2 separate regions of the Homo sapiens genome follow, and region 2 is linked to region 1. The links come from fine-mapping of genetic effects on gene expression. A gene starts in region 1. The other region holds a variant in brackets. All regions are shown on one strand. Distances are from middle to middle.

What was found.
Region 2: its variant is fine-mapped to the expression of GPX3 in whole blood (TOPMed, PIP above 0.99).

What each region holds. Positions count from the first base shown.
Region 1 is chr5:151,013,718-151,026,322 of GRCh38, reverse strand. It overlaps GPX3 (glutathione peroxidase 3), which reads right to left and starts at 5,732. Exons shown (of 5, transcript NM_002084.5): 1 at 5,582-5,732; 2 at 830-983. The coding sequence starts at 5,668. RefSeq lists an enhancer at 3,088-4,287.
Region 2 is chr5:151,051,977-151,059,976 of GRCh38, reverse strand. It overlaps TNIP1 (TNFAIP3 interacting protein 1), which reads left to right. Exons shown (of 18, transcript NM_006058.5): 6 at 3,020-3,211; 7 at 7,718-7,812. Among named protein-coding and RNA genes, the nearest start is that of TNIP1, 25 kb to the left of the region's middle. RefSeq lists an enhancer at 3,146-3,672. The variant TG/G (reference allele first, on the strand shown) is at 3,379.

The DNA.
Region 1 (12,605 bases):
CCGTCCTTTCACTTCCGGGAATTCGCCTGTGATTGCCAGGCAGAGCATGGAGGGTCAAATTGCCCTTGCCTCCCTGACCCCCTGCCAGTAGACTGCTCAGCCCCAAAGCGTTTTCCCCTGGGTGCTGTCGCTTGCCTTTGGTTGCCTGTTCCCCTAGCCTCTGTATTCTACCCCAGCTAGGGAGAAAGGAGTAAGCATATCAGGAGATCATGAAACCTGCGCCAAATGCCCCATTCCACCGCTAATAGCTTTGTGACCCTGTTTAAGTTGTATCTTCGCTCTGAGTCTTGGTTTCCCATGTGTAGATTGAGAAGAGGGGAAGGCTAAACTAGATCATCTTCAAAGTTTATTTTAGAATGGGCATTAGAAGTGTAGCCTGCTCCTTCATCCCGCTACACCACGCATACACTCTGGGGCCTCGAGGCAATTGCCTGCTTTCCAGAGAGCTGCCAAGAGAAGCACCAAAGCAGATGGGGCTGAGGGAAAATAAGATATTCTCAGCAAGATGGAGCTTCAGTTACCATCTCATGCTCCAGCCAAAGGGAGCTCTAAGCACAAACCTAATCTCTATCCCTCTGCCTTTAGGGTTGTTGAGGTGCCCAGAGATGAAGAAGGATAACTAGGAATCTCCTAGAACATGTCCAAAGGCAATCAGACCTCAGGCTTATATAATCATCTTCACAAAACCACGGAACACAGTGGAGCTGAGAAAAGGGGCTTGGACTCTCGTGATTGCCATCACCCTTTCCCCCATGCACCAGAAAAGCTCCTGTGATTGAAATATGCCATACAGCCCCAAATAAAGCAGGGAGGAAGGGTGGGCTCTTACCAATGTACTGGCCCGTCAGGCCTCAGTAGCTGGCCACGTTGACAAAGAGGACGTATTTGCCAGCATACTGCTTGAAGGGGATGTACTCCTCCCCATCAATGGTGAGGGCTCCGTACTCGTAAATGGTGCCACTTATGCCACCATGGCAGTCCATCTGGAACACAGGCCATAAAAGGAGCAGTTAGAGCTGGAAAGGAACTTGGACATCTCCGTTTTCAAAAGAATGAAAGATCCCAACAGAGAGAGTGACTTTCTCAAAGTAATCACCGAGAATTGGAACTGGACTAGCACTGACGTCTCCTAATTCCTTGTTTAAGATAATGATTATGAAAGCACTTAATAAGTGCTTTTCGGGTACTTAATATTAAGTGCTTAAAAAGCACTTATTAATATTAAGCACCTAATAAGCACTTATTAATATTAAGCACTTAATAAGTGAGTGCTATGGAACCCTGGAGAATGACTTATTTTGCTAATTACTTCCACATCACATGTCAATTTCAGAACATTTACTGGGCTCTCAGGGAGACTGCCCTAAAGCTGATGACTGGGTTCCTAGACGGGCTGATGGAGACTGGTTGGGTGGCTGTTGGAATAATCCAGGCAATTGAGGATGAGAACCTGAACTAGGCCAGTGTGAAGGAAAAACTGAACAGAAAGGAGGAAGAGGCCGTATGGACATGGTGATTCAGAGGCTCCCAATCTGCAGGACAGGAAAGATGAAGCTGTTGTTACCAAATAGGGAAGCAGGACTGAGAGCCAGGCATGGGGGAAAGGGCTGTGGTGAGGTAGGGAAAAGCAACAGTACCTGCATGTGTTAATGTTCCGGGTCTGAGCAGGCTGGTGATGACCCTTATGCCTTCCTCCCTCCCCAGCTGCTGCTCACAGTCAGCCTCCAGGACAAGGAGGGACAGAGTGCAGTGGACTGTGGGCTGGGAGACCTGGGCTCCATGTCCCTTTGCCATTAACTCCCTGTGTGGTCTTGGACTGGCCCTTTCTTTTCTTCGGACCTGAGTTTCCTCATTTATAAAATGAGAACCTTGAACTGAACCAACTCTCCAACCAGGTCAACCATGATGGCTTGATAGGATCATGATCAGTGGGAGAGAGGGGATTGGGGTCACTGCTGGCTAGTAGGATGTGGCCTATGAGCCTACTCTGCCCGTGACACAGACAACAAAATTCTGAGACTATTCTTGAAAGGATGTCATTGCATCATTGACACAATTTGGCAGGTGGGCTGGTCGTGATGGGAAAGGAGAAACCTTGAAACCATTGTATAAGGTGGTCTTTAAGGTCCTTTGTGGCCCTGATATCCTTTGAGAGGTGGGCAGACAATAAACAAATGGAATGCAAAGTAGCATTATAGACCAGGAGAGGGCAGAGACAGGTGGCTGGAGTTAGAGAAGCAAATTCACTCCCTCTCTTCCCCTCAATTCTGGAGAACTTGCTGTTGAGGCAAGGTACCTGGGCCTGACCAGGTGAAGGGAGTGATATATGCTGGCAGGGCGTGGCCCCAGTAGAGTGCAGAAGAGCTGCCTCTGTCATGAAGCAGGTCTGCTGAGCTGGGCGAGGCTGCGCTTCCTCCGCCAGGCCATTCCCTGGCAGCTGCAAGCTCTCTTCTTGGCTCTGGTGCAAACTTCCTGCTTTACATGAGTCTAATATTCCACATCCGGTGACTTTTGGTGGGTGCTGGAGGCAGGCCCAAGACCTAAGATCAACATTCCTACTGCTCCTGGACCTCCTCGTTCCCAGCCAGGGCCAGTTCCGCCTTAAAATGCAGACAAACTGGGGCACAACAAATACACCCTAGACCGCCACAAAGATCTAGTGGCCAGAAAGCCAGGCATGTCTATAGCCTCTCCACTTTTTTAACTCTGCCATGATCCAAAAATGAACTCTGAGACATGGAGGAAAAAAAGATTACAGGTTGTCCTAATAATGGGAACTTGTAAACAGAAGGACCAGCTTCTGGGCACAGTTTCAGCTTGGGGGTGTGGCAAGGAGAACCCTATTTCATTAGGTTCTATTTTTTGCTGGCTGTGTGGCCCTGAGCAAGTCACTTACACTGTCTGGGCATATGTCCAGGGAGATAAGCATGCTGCTGCCCAAAATGGTTGTGGGAATCTGCTGGCAGAGCAAAACAGGCCTGGAGTCTCTTGGAACGAAATCTCATGTCAAGGGATAGTGGGGGTCAGAAGGTGGCCCATGGGTGGAGAGCCACGGCTGTGCTCACCACTGATCACTGCAACTCAGTCCTCTATGAGCCCCCTTCCCTTCTCTGGGCACGTGGAATCCCAGAGCACCGCATCTGAAACAGTGGCCAGAGGAGATAAGGGGAGAGGCCATGAGGGTGCCTGAATCCTCCCACAGCCGGGCAAGAGAAGAGGGTTCCAATGGCTTGAGAGTTGGATGATGGGACTCAGCCAGGACTCTGGCTGGCTGGGGCTGCTGGTCTTGTGTCTTTCTCCTCTCCCGTCTTATTACTCCTATCAATATGATGCTGTGAGAAGTGGTCTGGGAGTCAGGAGACCTGAGTGCTGGGCTTTGCTGTGTCTCTGATGCCATGTGACCCCCTTTGCTGGGGCTCCAGCTCCTCCATTGTAAGATGGAGTCAGGTTCAGGGCTGTCTTAAGGGCCCTTTAACTCTGTCAGCCTGTGGTTCCATGATTCTCTCTGCCAGGTTTAGTCACCTAGAAACCAGCAGTTACTAGGATCCCGTGCACGTCAGCAGTTGTCACTCTTTCCGGCTTCTGCAGTCCTTTTGTAGAGACAAGGAGCGTGGGCAGCCTGAAGTTGGACTGGGGAGGTGACGCAGCAAGAAGAGGAGGACCTGGTCTCTTCCCTAGCATCTCCCTTTCAATTGGTAGGAGGAAAACACCTCTCTGGGGCTGAGTCACCTTTCGTCCATTCCATTCTCCACATGCCCCATAACCCTATCTCTTTACCCTGGGGTTGGGGGTAAGGTGAGTGGTTGGGTCCTAACCCAGAGCTAAGACATCTGAACTCTAAGAACTTGGGAGCAGAGATGGGCATGCCCAGGCTTTCATTAGCCAGCAAGTCCTGACTGGTTGTATGTGATATGATCACACCTCACCCTAAAACTTTTCTAGACCATCCCCATCCTATTCTCTCTGAGTCCATTTATCCTTCCCCAGAGTGCTGCAGAGAAGACACAGCTATGATGAGTTATTCATGGAGTCCACGTTCTCCCCACTAGCCTTCTTGAGGCAGGGCCCAATTGTATCTTCTTTGACCTTTCCAAAACTGAAGGTTGGGACTGACTCCACGGTGCTGGCCTGTCTATGGCCCACCCCAAACCTCAATGTTGAAAATCGATCCCATTCCTGACCTGGAAAATGCCTTCTGAGTTGGGGATTATGAACAGGGATGGATAAAAAGGAGGGGACTTGGACGAAGTGGCTTCACATCCATTTAGACTGACTCCAAGGAGAGGCTGATTAATCGGATTTAGGCTGAGGACCGAAAAGGGGTGAGTAACATGGAAGGAACCCTGTGCTTCCAATGGGCTTCCTGAGAAGTGGACAGAATTTTGGAAACGGAATCCTAGACTCATAAGAACTTAATTAAAGTGAAGACCCAGAGGATTTTAGAAACAAAAGCTCAGAGCTTGCAAAAATGTGAGTTATGCATGTTGGGAAGTTGGAGACAGAAATCGCTCGCTTTGAGTCTATCCCTACACCTGGCTTCTGCCTCCTTCCCCACCCACTCCCACTCCCTGGGTAGAGGAGAGGTCTACAGAGCCCACCCCAGTACATACTGTCAAAGGAGATAAGCATGCTGGGTCATCCCACTCCTGGCCTCAGTATCCCCACTCCAGGTGTGGGCCACACACCTGCTGGAAATAGACTGAGGCTCTAGAGAATTCTACCTCTTCTTCTGAATTAGCAGTCCCCAGCTTTCTCCAACTACCAGGTTTCCTCAGGCTAATGAGGACAGTGGGTCCTGGGTAGTGAGGCTGCCCCAGGGGAGGAAATTTCAGAGAACAGCTTGTGGATTTTTCAGCTTCTCCAAGCATCCCCTCTGAGGCCCTCAGCTTCATTGTGCCCCATGCACTCCCACCCCCAAACTCTCCCCTGCAGATGGAGAAACGGGGGTCCAGGAGCAGGTAAGGACTCAGGGTCCTGAGTGTTCTGCACTGTCACTCCAGAGCTCTTTCTAGCACAGATCTCTGCCTCTTCTACCAATGCCCTGAATCCAAGTGGCCATTTCTACCTGCCTGTATCATTCTTGGGGTAGAAGAGCCCCCCACAGCAGTTCTTCAGGACCAGGACCACCCAGCTGCCTCTCTCCTTTCTCCTTGTCTCTCTCCCTGGGAACTTGCACAGCCCACCCAGACGCTGGGCATTTTTTTCTGTGACGCCCTCCCTCTTAGGCCCTACTGAAGGGGAGCAGCTCAGGCACGGAGGTGACATAGATGTAGCAAGGCGACCCTCGAGGTGGCAGTGGGGAGAAAGTGCGAGCTCGGGGAGAGAGACCTTCCTCCCTTAGTCATTCTGCCCGCCTGAAGCACCAGGTCTCGGCTCTCCAACAGATGGAACTACGAGACGACGACGGTCGGGGGCGGGGTCCCGGCGGCGGAGGGGGCGGCAAAAGGGGTTCAGGAGGTCTCTCGCACCTGGGGATTGCCCATCTGGCGGGGAGCCTGGGAAAAGGGGTGCATTGCACTGAGCGCTGGACACCGAGGGGCTAGGTTTTTTCTCCCGGCCCCCGGCCCGGAGGCTCACTCACCTTCGACTTCTCTTGTCCCCGGCTCTGCGAGACGAAGCCGGCCAGGAGCAGGGAAAGCAGGCAGGACGCCTGCAGCAGCCGGGCCATGGCGGGGTGGGGGCACACTCAGGGTCGCCTGAGCCGCTGCCTGATCCCTGGCCACCGTCCGTCTGAGGTGTCCGGCGCTCCCAGCCACCTTTCAAGCCCTCGGGTGTGACCAATCCGCGGCCAAGCCGAGACCCTTGCAGCCAATCGCTAGGCGGCTGGGATTTCAGGGGCGGGCGCGACTTGCCCTCAGCTCCCCACCTCCCCGTCCCGGGGCGACAGTGACATAAGCAAATCTGGGCAGAGAGGTGGAAGTCAGGTCCCTGTGGACGTGGGAGGCGGTCCCTTCCTCTTTTGGCTCCAAAGTGCGAAAGGAGGCAGACACAGCGGTCTCCATTACAGCCAGGGCAAGGGGGCTAATAGCTCCCTAGAACTGATGGAAGTCTCCATTCTGGGAAGCATTTCTTATTCCTATCGAGGTTTTAAAAACACCTGGCGATGGTCCTCTGGAAATTGAGGGTTTAAAATTTCAGCAAGAGCTGAAGTTAAACTTCCAGAAACATTTACTATATATAGGTTTAGTGCTTAAGAAACAAAGAGTGGGTGTCCTGGGATTTTGAAAACCCCATTCTGGGTAGGGCATTAGGACTGTAGGGACAGAGAAGGTGGGGTGCCTTTCCTCCCCATCATAAGGATCACAGCTGACATGCCTGTAGAAAAAGGTTAGCAAGAGAAAAGCATAACGATTTATTTAATTAAAGTTTTCTGTGACATGAGAGTCTTCAGAAATGAAGACCCAAAGACTCAAGGAAAACTCTATTTTTAGGCTTAGATTCTATGAAGACCATGGAAATGCGCAGAAATGTGAGTGGGGAAAAAGGGAATGGTCTAATAGTAATAAACTGAGTGGGAAACCCAGCAAGGCTTGTCTGTTCGTATTCTTCTTGGCCTATCTGTGGCCAAACCACCTGGCTTAGAAGCAGAAAATAAATTTGCTCCCTGTGTAGTCTTTAACATGTTGCAGTTACTCTCTGGGCCTCAGTTTCCTCAGCTATGTAATGATGGGATTGATTAGTGATCTCCAGTGCCCTTCTGGCTCTGGCTAGATGACTTGTTTCTAAAGTAAGTGACAGACGGAGACCAGGAGTCCTTTGAGAATAGGGCCCATAATCACCACCTGGCACAGGGCCTAGCACACAAGAGATGTAAAGTATTTGCTGACTTAATCATTCATTACATTAAAAAAACAAAATCTCCATGGAACACTTAGGATCAGACCAGGCAGTTCTAGGGCTGGGCTGTCTAGGTATGATCCCGTTCACAGATGGGGAATGTGATGGAATCAGTCTCAAATCTCTCTGACCACCAGAGTCAACTGGGAAGCCTTTAATACAGATTCCTGGACCCCACTTTGGAATCACTGCATTAGAATCTCTAGGGGCAGAAGCTGAAAATCTGTCTTCAGACATGTTCTAAGGTTATTGTGAGGCAGTTGGCCTGGCTGTAGCCTTGGTAGTGTGAGTCCTAGGATTAAGTGCCTTCTGGAACTTTCTTCTGACCAAGAAATGCCTTGAGAAACCATACCTTTACTATGATTAAAGGTATTAACATCCCCCTGGGAATTTGGAAGATGTCTCTCAAGTTTTGCATTCTCTACGAAGTCTTCCCACCTCAAACCACAGCCTGTTGAAGTGGAAGGAACCACAGAGGCCAGGAAGTCTTTAGCTGAGTTAAAGCCTGGGAGCATATGAACAATGGCTGACACACAGTAAGTGCTCAATACGTTTTATTCAACCACCTCATTTCCCTGAAGCCTAGAGATGAGGAGCAATTTATCCAAGTTCCCATAACCAACTGATGGCAGGGAGGGAACCAGAATCCAGGTCTCTAGACTCAGTCTCAGGCCCTCTCCATGTTGTTCTGTTGTCTTTTAAGGTTCGTATTTACCCTAAAATATAAACATCTGTGTGCACATCAGTTTGTCAGAAATCCATTGTTCATTAGTATCAGTAGGCATCTAGTGACCCTCAAAATAGGCACCTAGCAACATGTTAACACCATGAGAGATGCTAAAGAGTTGTCTAAAAGCCAAAGTCCCTGCTCTCAAAGGTGTTTCCAGCAGATACCAGCAGGGTGAGGGAAGGGAAGGCACCTAGGGTCACACAAGTGCAGGCTGGCACCTGGCAGCGGGCATCTCTCTACATTTTGCACCCTCTATGTCTCACTTGTCTCACCTTAATCCCAGCCCTGGTGGTCTATTTCTTTAGGGGAGACAAGAAGGAGCCAGAGACCTGAGATGCTACCCCTGGATTGCTACGGAAAGTAATAAAATTACTTTCCTTCTCTGATCTCAGTTGTCCACCTATTTAACAAGGATCTTTGACAGTCTCTCAGTGGTGGTGTCTGTGGCTTTTCATTCCTAAGAGTATAAGGAAAGCCTGAGCCATACAAAACAGGAGTACAAAACTGATGACATGGACAGTGGGGTGGGGAGGCTTGGGGAGCCTGCCCTGGCATTAAGAAGGGCTTTCATGCTGCAGTGAGCTTTCAAAGGAGGTCTAACCATTGGCACAAAGAGCATGACAGTGAAAACAATGAGAATGAAAACAATACTTCCCAATCTTTTCATCAGCAGCCTTTTAAATACATTTGGTTGACTTGTTTTCAAGGACCCTATGTTTTGAAATATATCGTTCTCCACCAGGCTGCTTCTGATTGCCCTCAGGTTAAAGTCTAAATTCCTTAGCACTTCAGAAAGTGCCCTCAAAATCCATCTGCTTCTTCCTCTTTTGCCACACTCTCCATATTCTCTCTGCCTCCGCTACACTGGACATTTTTCCGTTCTTGCAGTCTGCCATTCTCCCTCACTTCCAGGTTTCATCTCTGCTGTTCCCTGTGCTTGGAACAGAGGTTGTCTCCCTTTAACTGGTACTATCCTACTCATTTTTCATATCTCCACTAATGTCACGTCTTAAGACAGGGGTTTCGTGATGGTTCCCTTGTTTTCCTGTAGTTCCTAGAGTATTTGACACTTTGTACATCGACCCTTTGTTGTACTTTATCATCATTTCTTGTTTGTCTATTTTCTGCACTAAATTATAAGATCCAAAAAGGCACCAGCACCAGCACAGAGCTTAATACATAGTAGTTGCTTGATACATATCTATCAAATAAATTAATGTCAAGGAAAACAATATTTGGCATATAGAATAAGGAGAGCTTCAAGTTAGCAAGTTGTAACCATGTAGAGCCCGCAAGACTGGTCTGATTTCATCTTCTAGGAAGATTCAAGACGTGCGGGTTATGATGAGTAGGCTTGTCAGAGGAGAGTAGATGATTTGCATTGGCCAAAATGGGAAGGGAGGGATGGAAGGAGAAGCTGTAGAAGAATCATAAGCTAGTTTTGCTTCCAGTCTGAGAACACGTCTTCCGCATTCCAGACAAGTGAGCACTCGGAACCTCTTCATCCTATTTTTTAGAGACCTCTATAGGGAGCTCACTACTTACCTACTTGGTAGGTGAACAGAGACCGAAGATGACTTAAAAAGAGGTTTTACAAAAAGTGCTGATGCACTGTGTCTTCAAGGAAGATAGAACACAAATTAATAAACTCAAAGGATTGTAAAAAGTTAAAACAACGAAAGCCAGCCTTATTATTGGTTAGTAAACATTTCAGGTTCTGAACTCAAAGATGGGATCAGCCACTCTAACTGATGAGCCTAGGTGGAAGCAGAAGTGAGGCCCAGCCTGCGTCACTTCAGTGCCAACTTCAAACAGTAGCCCTTGTTTTGCAATCGAGAGAAATTGCAGAACCGAGCTGGGGCCCTGGAGCTGCCAATTTCCTAAATAATTGGCAAATTTGATCTCAGGGCCAGCCAGAAGACAGGGAGTTCATCAAGAGGAGAGGTGGGTGGCTGTAGTTTTTGCTTGTGAAACTAGTGCCTTCCAAACTCTGGGCTGCAGTTTTCTCATTTATGGAACGAGGTGTTAGACAAGTTGATCTCCATGGGCCAAGCTTTAGCATAAAGAGAGTAGCAGCCAGCATTCACTCAATATCCTATCTATACCAGGTGCTGCCTTAGATTAATTAATCTCTGCAACCTCTTGAGGTAGCCAACATTATTATCCCCATTTTGTAAATGAAGAAACTAATACATAGAGAGGTTAAGCAACTTTGCTTAAGGTTATGCAGTTGGTAAGTCACAGAACCGGGATTCTGACCCACACATACTATTCTGCTGTGAGCAGATCTCTGTAAACCTACCCCACCCCCGCGCCAGCCAGTCAGAGGAGGCTGAGAAGCTGAAGAAAGAAGCTGACATACCCAGTTTCTCAGAAAGAAACATTTATTAGGGACTTAGAAACAGAAGCCACAGAAGTCTTAGGTGGCTGTGAAGTGAGATAGTGGATCCCCAAGCTATTACCCCTCCTCAGCCCAGGGCTTATATAGCATAGGGAAGGGGCGATTTCCCTATTGAAGGGATGTGTAGGCCAACTGAAGTGTGAGAATATTAAGTTTGTTTTCACCTAAGGGGAATATTTATGTTAAGGACATGCTCTTACACAAGGAAGAGTAGATAAACTGAAAACCTTAGCGGCTTTCCTGGAACTGGAGTTAATCAGAAATCAACATGGTTGAATCAGCATCCTAGACAGAGTGTCTTTAGCCTCCGCATATACTGTCTCCAGAGCCCTTGCCATTAACCTCTAAGCCAATATAGCAGGCAGGCCATGGGCGTGTGTGGCTGTTGCACGCTTGGAGTAGGGCTAGTACAAACTGATCTGTGCTGTGAGTATAAAACACACAGTGTTTTCTGAAGACTTAGTGTGATAAAAGAATATAAAATATCTTAATTTAATAAAATTGCATATGGAAATATTTTAAATATATTTTTAATATAGTGGGTTAGCTGAGCATAATGGCTCACGCCTGTAATCCCAGCGCTTTGGGAGGCTGAGGTAAGAGGATGGCTTGAGCCCAGGAGTTTGAGACCAGCCTGGGCAACATAGTGAGACCACATCTCTACAAAAATTTTCAAAATTAGCTGGGCAAATCACTGGAGCCCAGGAGATTGAGGCTGCAGTGAGTGGTGATTGTACCACTGCACTCCAGCCTGGGTGACAGAGTGAGACTCTGTCTCGAAAATAAAAATAAAAGAATAATAATATATTGGGTTGAAGAAAACATGTGCTTAAAATTAGTTTTGCCTGTTTCTTTTTGGTTTTTAAAATATAGCCACTAGAAAATGTAAAATTACATGTGACTCACATTATATCTCTGTTGGATAGCACTGGTTTCAGCTGTATACTCTTAAGGGACTGGCACAAGATTATGATTGACTCTGTGAAATCTAGGCTTAACTCCTGTTGGGGGTCCCCAGATCACCTCTAGGTTCAGTGATTTGCTAGGAGGACTCACAGAACTCAGCATATAAGTACACTGACACTATGATTTATTACAGCACAAGGTTACAAAATCAGCAAAGGGAAAAGGTGCATGGGACAAAGTCTGGAAGAAAACAGCCACGAGATTCCCAGAATCATCCCCCAGCTGAATTAAGCACACAGGATGTGCTTCATTCCTTTGTCAATGAACTGTAACAGCATGTGTAAAATGTTGTTTACCAGGGAAGTTCACTGGAGACTCAATGCCAGGGTTTTTGTTAGGGGCTGGTCACATAGGCATCCTTGGCTAAGCACATACCAGAATTCTAAACTCCCAGAAGAAAATTAGGCAGTCAACAGAAACTGCATTGTTTGTCCAGTTTAGGCATAATGAGCTACTCTTATTAGTTTGGGGAATGGTGGAAATCCTTCTGAAATAGAAGTTCCCAAGAGCTGACCACAGGCCAAGTGTAGCGGTCTAAGGATCATGGTCTCGGGCCTGTACTACTAACAATTTGCTACACATTTCTCAATTAAGCCTCAACAGGACCTGGCCTGGCAAATACTAGGTTTGTTGGGCTTACCTGAAATGGAGTTGTCTTAATCCGTTTGGGCTGCTATAATAAAATTCTATAAACTGGGTGGCATGTAAATAACAGATTTATTTCTTACAGTTCTCAGGCTGGGAAGTCCAAGATCAAGGATTTGGGATCAGGTGAGGACCTGCTTCCTCATACATGGCTGTCTTCTCACTGTACCCTCACATGGTAGATGGGGTGAGGGGCCTTTCTTGGGCCTTTTTTATAAGGGCATTTATTCCATTCATGAGTGCTCCATCCACCTTTATGACCTAATCACCTCCCAAGTTCCCACCTCCTAATAGCATCACTTGGGGGTTAAGATGTCAATATAGCCAGGCGCAGTGTGGCTCACGCCTGTATTCCCAGCACTTTAGTAGGCCGAGGCAGGCGGATCATGAGGTCAGGAGTTCCAGACCAGCCTGACCAACATGGTGAAACCCCATCTCTACTAAAAATACAAAAATTAGCCAGGCATGGTGGTGTGCGCCTGTAGTCCCAGCTACTCAGGAGGCTGAGGCAGGAGAACTGCTTGAACCAGGGAGTTGGAGGTCGCAGTGAGCTGAGATCGTGCCACTGCACTCCAGCCTGGAAGACAGAGTGAGACTCTTAAAAAAAAAAAGTCAATATCGGAATATGCGGGAGGGGGAACACTCAGACCATAGCAGGAGTTAATGACTCCCTCTGCCTGCAAAGCCCACTTAGAGGGAGAGTTATAAAAAGAAGAATCCCTAGAGACTAGCTCATTCCACCCTCTTATGGGAGAGGCTAAGGCTTCAAGAGACTGAATGATTGGTCCAGGGTCCCATAGCAAATACAAGCACCTATGAGAATCACATTTATCTATGCTAGATATAGTTCCAAGCTTTCAGCCAAAATGTCCCTTCCCTCCTCTTGGATCTATATGCTTCTGGAACATAAAGCACCTACCCTTTGCTCTATTTCTTAGTGGTAAGGTGCCCTACCTATGTCTCTGCTAGCCCCTCTCCACCTACTCTCCATACTTTCTTTCTTTTTTTTTTTTTTGCGACGAAGTC
Region 2 (8,000 bases), 36 kb before region 1:
GGAAGGCCCAGGGCCCTGTAAGACAGGTGATTTGCTCTTTGTGCAGACTCTTGGAGCACACAGGAAGGAGGTTCAACTTTCCACTTACACGCATGCGCGCGCGCGCGCGCACACACACACACACACACACACACACACACACACACACTCTCTCTCTCTCTCTCTCTCTCTCTCTCTCTCTCTCTCTCTCTCTCTCTGTCTCTCGTACAGCTCTGGAGCGTCTGCCCAGCATCCTCATTCCACACCTTACAACACTGGCTGCCTTTTTCCTAACTATATCTCCTTCTGTTCTTTCTTAAAATGGCAGACTTATTGAAGAACCATTGTGAAAAGTCTGGAAGATTCTTTAAACGACTTAAATTTCTACCTTCTCCATTCTCCCTTCCTTCCCACTTTTAAGTTTTTTTCTTTAATTGTTGTTATGCGAGCAATAGGTGCTCTAGCCCTTCACTGATATATTGATCCCTGCTGCCTCCCTTCACAAAGGTTTGGCTGACAAATATGCTTGTGTTCACTGGTTGCCCCATGTACCTGTCAGTGCCCAGTGCAGGGCCCCCTCAGGTGGCTGTCTGGCTAACTAGCATGCCTTCAGTGTTGAGAGGCTCACCACTGCCTCAGGCAGCTCTGAGTATTGGAAAGGCTCTTTATGTTCTGTCGCCTGGAACCTTCTGTCCCCTTGTCCTGTTCTGTCCCTGAGGGCTCTGAGATGCTGGCCATGGAGGCAAGATCCCCTGCTCAGAAAGTGTTTCACTCTGACTTTGGACCGATAACTTTAACTGACGTAGTAAGTTCCTCATTAGCTCTACAGTGTGCCTGTCTCTGCTGAGCCACTTGAGCCAAGACAACACAGCCTCCCTGTGCTCTGAAGCTTGTAGTCTGGAGAAGTCGCAGGCATGGGAAGCATCGCATGAGCCTTAAATAGAGCAGCATCTGCCACCTCAGCTCCTTTGTGGAAAGAGGCAGTGGGGGAATGGATGCAGAGTTGAAACAGCAGCATTTCCTCTTGTTAGAATGCGGCACACTGACGCCATTACACAGGTGTTCAGGGAATGCCAAGTTGGGGTTATAGTCATTGCCATTCCTCCAGAGTTCAGAGAAGTGGGAGGTCAGTGCAGCAGAGCACTGGATGGCGAGTCAGGAAACCTCAGTTCTCGTTATACCTCTGCCACTGACTTACAGGGCAACTTTGGGCAAGTTCCTCCTCCCCATAGCTTGGTTTCCCGGCCTGATCTCTGAGGCTCCCTGTAGCTCTGCTGTCCTGTGATTCCCATAACTGTTTCCGGGAGGCTGCTGGAGGAGCTGAGCCGTGGACAGGGTGGGAAGGATGAGCAGAACTTGCAGAGGCAGAGAGGACACAGAGAGGACACATGCAGAGACACCAGACCTGGTGTGTGTGGGTTCAGGCAGGGTAAAGTGGGGAGCCCAACTGGATGCTGCTGTGGATGGGACCTGCGGCTGTAGGGCCTTAGATGCCCAGCAGGGGAGCTGGGCCCAGTGCCGTCTGCAGTAGGGTAACACTGCAGGTCCTTGGGAGTGGAATTGGTGTAACAAAGGCAATGTCTTTGGTAGGAGTATTCCAGATAGACTAGAGAGAAAGAGTCAACTATCTGGCCCACGGTGTGCTTTATTTCTTACATACTGTACTAGTTTGGGACTTTCTGAAATAGCTAAAGCTGTGGTTCCTTAAACTGTTTTGAGTCTTGGGTCCTCAGAAGCTGATGAATGCTTGGGCCATTCCCCAGAAGACACATGTGTAGGCCAGGCATGGTGGCTTACGCCTGTAATCTCAGTACTTTGGGAGGCCGAGGTGGGTGGATCACCTGAGGTCAGGAGTTCAAGACCAGCCTGGCCATTGTGGTGAAACCCCGTCTCAACTAAAAATACAAAAATTAGCTTGGTGTAGTGGTGCACACCTGTAATCCCAGCTCCTCAGGAGCCTGAGGCAGGAGAATCGCTTGAACCCAGGAGGCGGAGGTTGCAGGACGTATATGCAGATGTCCCTTGGTAAACATGGGAGAGTGGTTCCAGAACTCCCTGAGGATACCCAAAATCCATGGATGCTCAAGTCCCTGATGTAAAATGGCGTAGTAGTTCCCTATAACCTATACACATCCTCCTATATACTTTAAATCATCTCTAGATTACTTACGATACCTAATACAATGTAAATGCTAAATTTTGGTATACTGTATTGTTTAGGGAATAATGACAAGAAAAAAATTCTGTACATGTTCAATACAGTTTTTTGTTTGTTTGTTTTGGGACGGAATCTTGCTCTGTTGCCCAGGCTGGAGTGCTGTGGTGCGATCTCTGCTCACTGCAACCTCCGACTCCCTGGTTCAAATAGTTCTCCTGCCTCAGCCTCCCAAGTAGCTGGGATTACAGGCACGTGCCACCATGCCCAGCTAATTTTTGTATTTTTAGTAGAGACAGGGTTTCACCACTCAGGCCGTCTTGATCTCCTGACCTTGTGATCTGCCCGCTCAGCCTCCCAAAGTGGTGGGATTACAGGCGTGAGCCATCGCGCCCGGCCAGTTTGTTTTTTTAGAAGATTTTTGATCTGCAGTTGGTTGAATCCATGGATGCGGAACCCATGGATATGGAGGGCTGACTGTGCAGTGATGTCCCTTTTCTGGGCTTGTTACTGTCAGGGGTCAATTCATCCTCCTAAGAACCCTGTGAGGTTGAAGGGAGGGAAGGGTTGTGCGGACATTTGGTAGATGAGGATGCTGAGGTCCAGCAGACAAGTGACTTACTGTCAGGCACTCTGCAAGGCCCAGTGTGTGGGAGGATGGTGGCCCCGCTGCTGTGGAGCCACCAGTGGCCTGTGAGTCCTGGGTTCTGCCCTGTGAGTCAGCCCCAGACAGGGAACCTGCATAACTGGAGAATTTCCCGGGGCTGAGCTGGGGTCACAGGGGGAAACTGAGTCATGAGAAATGAGGAAGCAGAGGGAGAATGGACTGGCGGCGCCTACTCAGGCCTTGGTGAAGAGTGGGCCGTGTGCCCTTTCCCTCTCCAGGCGCTGGGCCCCCTGCCCCGTGAGGACGGCAACCTGATGCTGCACCTGCAGCGCCTGGAGACCACGCTGAGTGTGTGTGCCGAGGAGCCGGACCACGGCCAGCTCTTCACCCACCTGGGCCGCATGGCCCTGGAGTTCAACCGACTGGCATCCAAGGTGCACAAGAATGAGCAGCGCACCTCCATTCTGCAGGTGAGGCGCGTGGGGAGGGCAGCCCGAGACAGGCAGGCGTGCTTCCCCCCGAGCTCTTCCCACCTTCCTGCTCCTGGGAATCCACTGGTACCATGGGGACTTCTGAAGGCTGTGTTGTGGGCAGACTTCGGGCTTTTTGTTCAGGGTGATGAACAGGATAAGGAAGT[TG/G]TGGGGAGGGATGAGGAAGAGGAAGGAAATGGGGAAATACGGGATGGGCAATGCGAGTGTCATGGTTGGGGATACCCCCAGCAGCCCTGCCTTTATTTCTCATGTGCAGGGTTGGGGGATGGGAAGGGAGGGAACAAAGGTCAACTCCTTTCATAATGCCTCTTTCCCCCCAGGGTAGGCACCCTCATTATCACCACTTCACAGGTGGGGAAGCAGCCCTTTTTTTGCCCAAGGTCACCCAGCTGGTAAATGGTGAAGTAGGGATTGGAACCTCGATCTCTCGCATTCCAAAGCCCATACTCTTGACCACCATCCCAACCTGCCTCCCCTATTGAATTCCTTTTGAAAGCCTCCCTGTGCTGTGGGGAATGGACAGATTTCCTTGCTAGGCCAGGCCAGACCTTGGAGTTATATGGTCCTTGGTTCCAGTAGTGACCCTTTATTGCTGTATGACCTTGGACAAGTCACTTATCCTCTCTATCCCCCAATGTTCCTATCAGTAACATGAGCTAGAAGTGCCTCCATGGTTAGATTGCTGCATTAAATGAGGCCATGTACATGAAGCACCCAGTGCAGTCCAGAACCTAGTCCATGCTGGAAGAGAGGTCCCCATTCGGAGTTCATGACGGGCATCCACACTGGGCAGGGGGTCTTAGCCTTGTGGGCTTTAGCAGCGGGGAAGTGTTCAGTTATAATTGGTGACCATTCTAAAGATGGCAAAACGGAGGCTTCTGAGGGACTGCTCGTGATCTGAGTGCCCGCCACCTTAGTGACAGAGCCATGACTTGAAGCCTCCTTACTCCCTGCAGACTCTCCTCCCAGGCCATTCTCTGATCTGTGGTCTCATTCATGTCAGCAGGCACTCAAGTGCCCCGCTGATGGCAGAAGGGGGAGTCCCCCTTGCGTGACCTTGGTTGCCGAGGGCATGAAGGGCAATCAGGTTGGAGATGCAGTATGAGGAGAGGTGTGGGGGTAGAGGAGCACGGAGGATGCCCATCCCACCTGGAGGGGAGGGGTGTGTTGGGAGGTGAGGCTGAACGAGAGGCAGAGGCCTGGAGAGCCAGGCTGAGAGAAGGGAACCCCTTTAAGATGTCAGTGAGGCTTCAAGGTATCCAGGCTGAACCCTGGCAAGGTGAGCCTGGCACAGTGCCTAGGCTGTGGGCAGGGTAGGAAGGTGCCTGGGGTGAGAGCACTTTGCGCATCCACTTTTCAGCTTTGAGATGGGGATAGATCCTAGGCCCCTTAAAAGGGGTCCTGCCAACCTCTGTTATTTTTTATTTCAGTCCCCTCCTTGTTTATTTCCTTCTTAGCTCTTATCATAGTTTGTAATAATTTTATTTAATACATTTTTTCTTATACTCTTTTTTTTCTTATACTCTCTGCTAGAAGGTAAGCTTGAGGGGGGCAGGCACCATGTCTGTTGTATTCACTGTTGCGTCCCAGTTCGTGGCACTTCATACACACTTGGTGAATGAATGAAAGGACAAAATAATAAATGATCAAATGAACTCATAGCTCTCGTAGCACCTTGGATGGAAGGTGATGATCTTTGTGACCTCTGATGATTCTATCCATTGGCCGGTTTGCACCCAGGGCATTGGCCCAGAGACTCCAAGGAAACAGCTCTCTAGACTGCAAGGGTAGGACAGCAAGTGAGGCCTTGTCCTGGCCTTCCCTTAGGGACTAGGAGCAGGCCATTCTGTTCCCTGGAGGCCTCGCCCAGAGACATGGCATCTTGGGTATTTTTACTGCCTGGGTGGAGGTGTATTGATCCAGTTCCTCCTCATTCATTCACTGATGTGTTTCTTGGTTCACTAAACAAACATATTCAAGGTCAGGTATAGCATAAGGCTCTCTGCTAGGCATTGAATGGACTCATAACAATAATTTTTTGATTTCTTTTTTTTAAGGGGTGTTGGGGGACAGGGTCTTGCTCCGCCACCCAGGCTGGAGTGCAGTGGTGCGACCACAGCTCACTACAGCCTTGACCTCCTGGGCTCAGTTCTCCCACCTCAGTTCCCTGAATAGCTGAGACTACATGCATGCGCCCTTATGCCTGGCCAATTTTTTGGTATTTTTAGTAGAGACAGGGTTTTGCCATGTTGCCCAGACTGGTGTTGAACTCCTGGGCTCAAGTGATCCTCCTGCCTCAGCCTCCCAAAGTGCTGGGATTACTGGTGTGAGCCACCATGCCCAGCTGGTTCTCTGTTTGCTAAGCCTCATCTCCCTCATTGTCCAGCCACCTCCAGTTGAAGGCTGTGTCCTCCATTCAGCCTTCCCAAGAGTCTCCTTTGTGAGTCAGAAATGAAACAACTCTGAAATCTCCCTGGGTTACACAACAAAAGTTTTCCCTCCTATTCTGTGTGGCAGGGGTTTGTTTCTGCTCTACACAGTTCCTTAGAGTCCCAGGGAGACAGGGGCCCAACTTTCCGGTGCCCTTTAGAATACGAGGCATCCACATCAGCCCCTGCTACCAGGAAAAAGAGACTGGAGAATTGTGCGTAGGCCAGTCCAGGAGTGATGCTTGTCCCTTCTACACCTCTTTTGTTGGCCAGAACTAGTCACATGGTTGCATCCACCTGCAACAGGCCTGGGAGGTGGAAGGCAGCAGATGGCTGTTTAGTGAATGGCCCTGGTCCTGGCCCAGCTCAAAGGCTGTCCCCTCCTTTGGGCACCATCTCTCTCCCTTCTCTGATCTTTCATCACAGGGGAAAGAGACACCAGTGTGGGGTCTGCCAATTGGAGTTTTACTCCCCGCCAGTGATGAGTCTTAGCAGCTGTGCACCTGTTAGACTGTATCATTTTACCTGGTTTCCCTACCTTTAACATAGAGATGAGTTACTTAGCTTTGAGGAAGTTGTGAGGCACCAGTGAGGCAGTATATGGAGAAACACCGAGCAATGTACCTGGCACAGGTGAGGTGCTCAGTGAGGATCTGTGGAAAGATTGAACAACTCTGTGCTGACACTGTATGCTAGCATTGCTAGTCAGCACCTTCCCTTCCCCCCAGCCTGTGAGGTCCTGAGTCTGGCGACCCCTCTTCCATGCCCCCAGTTCACAGAGCTTCCAATATGAGTCCCCGCACATAAGCAAGTGACTGATGGTTCATGGACACTTCCACTCTCACTGTCTCATCTGTCCCTCTCAGCAGCCCTATAGAGGAGGCAGAGAAGAAACAGTTGTCCCTGGGCTAGGTGTGGTGGCTCATGCCTGTAATCCCAGCACTTTGGGAGACTGAGGCAGGTGGATCACTTGAGGTCAGGAGTTTGATACCAGCCTGGCCAACATGGTGAAACCCCGTCTGTACTGAAAATACAAAAATTAGCCAGGCATGGTGGCACACACCTGTAGTTCCAGCTACTCAGGAGGCTGAGGCAGGAGAATCTCTTGAACCTGGGAGGTGGAGGTTGCAGTGAGCTGAGATCATGCTACTGCAGTCCAGCCTGGGCAACAGAGTGAGACTCTGTCTTAAAAAAAAAAAAAAAAAAAAAAAAAAGAGAAACAGTTGTCTTTCTTTTGTAGAGGAGGAACCAAGTGTCACAGCCACATTGTGAGGGCGTGAGGGCATAGTGAGGTCCCGACTGAATGCCTTGTCTTCTGGTTTTCCCCTTGGCAACACTGGGCACCTCTCACACCTGCAAATTGGTGTGCCTTTCAGCCCCCCTAGGACTCGCCTGCTCATTTGTCCATTTGCTCATTTGGCTGTTCAGTCATGTTGTTCCTTCCACAAACTTTGAGCTGGGGGCTGGGGATCTGGCAGTGAACAAGAGGATGGTTAGGGGTCCCAGCCCTCCGGGAGCTCAGGAATTAATTAGGGGTAAGGGGGTAGATATTAAGAAAACAGCAGCACGAACAGTTCTTTAGCTTTATCTGCCACAGGTGCTGAGAAGCGTAAAAGCGGGGGGCTGTGAGCAAGGATAACGGAGTTAGCCTAATGTAGCTGGATCGGGGAGTCAGGGAGGACTTCTCTGAGGAGATGGGATTTAAACTAAGACTTCAAAGAAGGGTAGAAGTCAGCTGGGGGAGGCTGGTGGGGAATAGGGGTCCCGGCAGTGGGAGCAGGGATGAAGGAGAAGGGATGGAGCTGTCTGTCTTGGAGGAGCAGAAGGCCCCATGGCTGATACTTGGTCAGGCTTCTCCGTAGTTGGCTCCCAAGGGAGAGGACACGTGGGTGGCCAAGTGGCTTAGCTCCTTAGAGAGGGATGGGGTGAGGCCAGGCAAAGGGGATAAGGAGTTGGGCCCTGGGGTGGCTACAGGCCCCCCACCATCCTCTAGCTCAGCCTGCACCTGGGAGGGGCCCCTCCTTTCCCTCACCCTGTCTGTTCCCCTGCCCCACAGACCCTGTGTGAGCAGCTTCGGAAGGAGAACGAGGCTCTGAAGGCCAAGTTGGATAAGGGCCTGGAACAGCGGGATCAGGCTGCCGAGAGGCTGCGGTAAGTTCAGGCCCCTCAGAGAAGGGGTGAGGAGTGGGGGCTGCAGGAGGAGGGGCTGGTGTGCAGCACTGATTTCTGGGTTGAGGACCGTGGCTCTGAGGCCCTGTGCCCAGAGCCCTATTTGGAGGTTACGTCTCTTGATCCTTCTCCTTGGCTCTTTTGGTATTTTCTCTCTGGCCCTTTTGCCA